Regions from separate parts of the Homo sapiens genome. Here region 2 is linked to region 1. Evidence: fine-mapped expression QTL. Tissue or cell type: aorta. Region 1 holds a variant in brackets; the other region holds the start of a gene. All regions are shown on one strand. Distances are from middle to middle.

Region 1 (2,680 bases):
TTGCACATATTTCGGGAATGATTACGATCAGCCCTGTCTCTTCTTTTAACTAATCTGATAAATGTAGACATGCTGACAGTTTTGTGATAATACTCCCCCGCCTGGGGCTTTTCCATTTTCCTCTCCAGGAAGAGGGCCGTGTTTAGCATAGCATTCCTCAGTGTGAGTTCATGCCTTCATGGGCCTTATCACATGGGAGTGCTAGTGGCAAGCTCAAGGCCAGCTTGCTGAGTGGCAGGACAGAAAGGCAGTAGATTCCAGGGCTCTTGACTCCTGAGTCCAGCGCTGTGCTTGTCCCAGTGCTGCCATGGTGCCAGGTGTGGGACAGGACACTGGGGAGGCACGCACGTGACAGAGGCACTTCCTGGACCAGCTCGTGGTGGCACCTTGCCCACCACCAGACACCCCTCCCAGGGCCTGAGCACTGCCCCAAGCTCCCTGCAGGACAGCCATGCTCGAGTCTGGGACCAAGAGTGCTCTCTTTAAGGAGGCTGGGATCTCAGAGTGGGACTCTCAGCATCCAGATACCAAAGGGGGTCGTCCTCTTCCTCCCTCTTTTCTTCCTGCAGGGGTTTCTTGGGCCACAGCCTCACCTTTGCCCATCCCCCTCAGTTGGGAATTGTCTGAATTAAGAGTTAAAAAAGGTCAGATCTTGGAAGGATTGAGCCTCCTCTCCCAGGAGGCCCAGAGAAAACTTCAAGTCATAAACCTATTGTCCTGGAAACCCTCACTTCCCCTAGCTGTGCCTCGGTTTCCCCATCTGTAAGCTGAGGAACCTCATCTAGCTCTAGAAAGTAAGTCTATGGATTGAGAAACATCATAAACTCCTGCCATTTACATATGAAATACTTCTTGTAATTCCCTCTCCCCTCCGTCCACCCTCCTGTGGGGTCCTCCTCGTGTCACTCCTGTGTGATTACAGTAGCTTCCTAAGGTGTCTCCTGGACTCTAGTACTTCTCCTTCACGTCTGCCTGGAGAAATCTTTGTAGGTTCTGCTCTCCTCATGTCCTTTCCCTACTTTCAAACTTGGGATGGCTTCCTGCTGCTCCTGTGTAAGGTCTGTGTCACATCTCTTCACCTCTGCCACAGAGACCACTTGGGATTTTCTAGAGTACTGGAAGTTTTACTCTTCCTAGCCTTTGCTTTTGCCATTTCTTCAGCTAAAATGCCTTTCCTCCTTCTCCTGATGATGACATTTTCTGCAACCTGCAAGACCTAACTTCTTCCCACCCATCTTACTTCTCCTCTTCTCCCTTGATGCTCCTATTGTAAGTGCCTTTGTGCTTTTTTTTTTTTTTTTTTTTGAGACACAGTCTTGCTCTGTCATCTAGGCTGGAGTACAGTGGCACAATCAAGGCTCACTGCAACCTCCATCTCCTGAGTGTGAGAGATTCTCCTGCCTCAGCCTCCCGAGTAGCTGGGATTACAGGCACTGGCCACCATGCCCAGCTAATTTTTGTATTTTTAGTAGAGACGGGTTTTCACCATGTTGGCCAGGCTGGTCTCGAA[A/C]TCCTGACCTCAAGTGATTCACCCGCCTTGACCTTCCAAAGTGCCGGGATTACAGGTATGAGCCACCGCGCCTGGCCTGTGCTGGTTTTTTTTTTTTTTTTTTTTTTGCATTGTATCATAACCAGTTAACGTACTTGATTTTCATCACTATAAATCCCATTGTATGACCAATCATCCCAAACATTTAGCATTTTCCTTAAGTTATAAAAGTAAACCAGGCGCGGTAGATCACTCCTGTAATCTCAGCACTTCGGGAGGCCAAGGCGGAGGATCGCTTGAAGCTAGGAGTTCAAGACTAGCCCTGGCAACATAGCGATAATCCGTCTCTACAAAAAATACAAAAACACTTTGGGAGGCCCAGGCGGGTGGATCACCTGAGGTTGGGAGTTCAAGACCAGCCTGGCCAACATGGCGATACCCTGTCTCTACTAAAAAATACAAAAATTAGCCAGGCGTGGTGGCGGGTACCTGTAATCCCAGCTACTCAGGAGGCTGAGGCACAAGAATTGCTTGAACCCGAAAGGCGGGGGTTGCAGTGAGCCGAGATAGTGCCACTGCACCCCAGCTTGGATGACAGAGTAATACTTCATTTCAAAAAAAGGAAAAAAAAACCCCCAAAAACAAAAAAACTAAACAAATACAAAAAATTAACTGGGCAGGTGGCACACACCTATAGTCCCAGCTACTCAGGAGGCTGAACTCAGGAGGCTGAGGGGAGGATTACTTGAGCCTGGAAGGTCAAGGCTGCAGTGAGCCGTGATGTGCCACTGCACTCCAGTTTGGGTGACAAAGCAAGAGCCCGTCTCTCTTGGGGGCGGGAGGGAAGCGCACTCTTGTAACATCTCCAAATGGTTGAGAAGTAAAGTGAAACGCCCCCCTTCTCTAACCCTATTGGTCAGTCCTGCGACTCCTGGGTAATGGCTGCTAATGGTTCCTTATGTGTTCTTCCGCCCGTACGCCTTTGCATTTTCAACGTGTATGCATGTACCAAAATTGATGTAACTGGCCTCCATTACGGGACATTTAGGTTGTTTTCCATTATCTACTGCTGTAAATAATGCTGCAAAGATCACCTTCAGATTCAAATATTTCTGCAGGCAGCGTCTTAGAAATGGGATTGCTGGGTCACAGAGAACATCCACTTAAAATTTTTAATGAACACTGCCAAAC
Region 2 (2,680 bases), 87 kb after region 1:
GAGGAGTTTATAGTTATGAGTTTGCAATTGTGACCAAGATAAATGACCATTTGGTCTAGTGGGACCCTTGGGGCAAGGGCCTTCATACCATCTGCTCTGGGTGGAGAGAGGGAGACCTTCTTGATGACCCGAGAGCCCAGTCCTCCAGGGAAGTGCAGCTGTCATGTTCTCCTCTTGGCGAGTGAGTGAATGTTTGTTCCTGGCTACCCTGAACGCAACAATGTGCAATTATTAAGTACTCACCCCCTTGCCAGACACTGCTGAATGCTCTACACACATTACCATCCAGTGTTCACAACACCCCTACAGGGTGAGGATCAGTACCTCTGTCTTCTGGATGAGGAAACTGAGCCGCAGAGAGGCTGATCACTCACACAAAGTCACCCAGCAAACACACAGCAGGTTCCTCTGACCCAGGAAACTGCTGTGCTAACCATTCTGCTGTGCTTCACTGTGTGGGATGGAGGCAGCAGCTGCTTGCCCATACATCGGGGACGAGGCTTTCCCAGAATGCCTGGAGTTTTCAAGCCATCCACTGCTCTCTGCGCCCCAGTCCAGGAGTGATGGAGAGCTATAGTCGGGAATCAGAGATTCCAGGTGGAGATGAAGGCTGACTGTTCCTCTGCTTCAGAAATAACCATTTGGTCAGAACTGAGGAGCATCAGAGGTTCAGCCAGACAAAGCACCTTCCTAGTCTCCAGATGAGGAAACAGGCCACTGGGGTGGGCAGCCTCAGTCATGTCAGATGTGGTGGCAGAGCTGGGACTCCTGGCCGTCCTCTCCAGCCCAGGGGCCACTGATCACATGATATTGCTCTGCTCATGCACCCTGCTTCTCCTCCACTCCACTCTGAGAGGTTCATCAACCAGTCCCTGGTGCCCATGAAGGCCAGGCCTGTGGAAGATGCTCAGTCAATATTTGTGCAGAGGATACAGGCCCAAGGTGCTCGGCTGGCCAGCTCTGTCCCCATCCCTCATCCATAAAAGCAGTGGTGGCTCCAGATTGCCACCTAGAAAGCCAGGGGCAGTCTGGTAGGAAGAAGGTGGGCAGTGTGGAGGAGCGGCCTAGAAGACGGTCAGCCAGCAAACCCACTCTAAGGTCCCATTAAGACACCCCCTGACCCTGCCCAAGAGGGACAACTGCAGCGGGGACAAATGATTCATCCCCACACTTGAGAAGCAGAGGGGCGGGGAAGGAGGAAAGGCTAGGGGTGTGTGTCAGGGTATTGCACACAGAGATGGTTGGCTTCAGTTCTGGGTTCTGAAGTCCCTCTGTGCCGCTGGCTGGGCAAGAGGTAAAGGACAGCTGGGCCAGGGGCCAGGCTGGGACTCCAGCAGGACTTCCGCGGCGAGGGGCGCTGGGGGGGCGAAAGGCTTTGGCGGCCCGGCCAGCAGCGCCCTCGGGGGTAAGGGGAAGGGAGGCTACGCGGAGAGGTGCCAGAGACAGCCGGTGCCCTTGCCCGCCGGCCGCCCGAAGTCCGGGTGGTGGGCGTGGCTGCCCCCGGCGGGTGGGTGGGGGCGGGCTCCGGAGCCTGGCTGCGGAGTGGGTGTCCAGGGCGCTCGCGGCTGGGGCGGCGCGGGGGGCGGGAAGGCGCGCGCCGAAGGGGTGGGGAGGAGAAGGGGCGGGCGGCTCGGGGGTGGAGCCGGGACCGCAGCGCCTGCCGCTCGCTCGGAGCTGTAGCCGCCGCTGCCGCCGCTGCTCTTGGCTCGGGGACGCGGGCGGGCGCTCCGAGAGGCTCTGGTGCCTGCGGCTGCTGCTCTCCTCCGGCGCCCGGGGCTGCGGCGCTCCGGGTCCCGGCCCCTGTCCCGGCATCTCTCGGGTCCCTGAGCCCCGGCCCCGGGTCCCGCGTCCGGCCGGAGAGAACGCACTCAGCTGCTCGAGCCGCCCCGGGCTCGCGCCCCCGGGCCATGAAGAGGGGCCCGTGAGGCGCGCGCGGAGTCGGAGGAAGAGGAGGGAGGAGGGAGGCCGAGGAGGAGGGCGCGGGAGGCGGAGGATGCCGCCGCGGCTGCTGCCGCCGCCGCCACCCGCGGGTCCCCGGCGACCCTGACTCCAGACCCGAGGATGGAGCCGGCGCTGGGCGCTGCAGCTGCTCCCGGCGCGTCCCCGACCAGGTATTGGCCGGGCCCCGCGGGCTCCGGGGCGGGCGGGAGCGGACACTCCGCCGCAGCAGCCGGGAGGGGCGCGGGCGCGGTGGGAGACGCCCCTCCGCTCGGGGACAGCAGCTACCGGCGGTGAGCGGAGGGGTGGCGGCGGCGAGGAACGGCGGCGTGTTGGGCGCAGGAAGGGGCTGCCGGGGCTGGTGGCCGGTGAGCGCCGCGATCACCTCAGCCCTCCCTGCCCCCATTCGAGGAGGGCAGCAAACTTGAGACGCGCGGTGGCCCCCGAGGCGCTTGGCTCCCCTCCGCTGCGGAGCGCACTCAGGGGCTGCTCCGGGCTCACCGTCCCACGACCCGCCTGGCTCGGGTCTGCGGAGGCGCCTTGAGACCCTGAGGTCCCCGCGCCCGCACCAACTTTCCAAACCCAGCTGCACCCGGAGGCGGGGGCGCCGCTCCCTGCTTCCTGCTCCCAGCCCTGGCCCGGCCTCCGCACCCAGACCGCTGCGATGAGCTGGGCCCCTGTGGGGCCGGAGCCGCCGGATGGTGCAGAGCCCACCACGGAAAGCCGGAACAACCCTCCCGCT

Which allele goes with the higher level. Positions count from the first base shown, and alleles are read on the strand shown. Sizes are in standard deviations (SD) of each study's normalised expression.
In carriers of allele A in region 1, the expression in aorta of the gene that starts at base 1,667 in region 2 tends to be higher than with C alone (small effect, 0.29 SD a copy in GTEx).

What was found. PIP is the estimated chance that this variant, and not a neighbour inherited with it, causes the effect.
Region 2: CHST1 starts here. The variant in region 1 is fine-mapped to the expression of CHST1 in aorta (GTEx, PIP 0.94).

Annotation. Positions count from the first base shown.
Region 1 is chr11:45,752,013-45,754,692 of GRCh38, reverse strand. No RefSeq gene overlaps it. Among named protein-coding and RNA genes, the nearest start is that of LINC02690, 1.7 kb to the right of the region's middle. The variant A/C (reference allele first, on the strand shown) is at 1,511.
Region 2 is chr11:45,664,609-45,667,288 of GRCh38, reverse strand. It overlaps CHST1 (carbohydrate sulfotransferase 1), which reads left to right and starts at 1,667. Exons shown (of 4, transcript NM_003654.6): 1 at 1,667-2,111.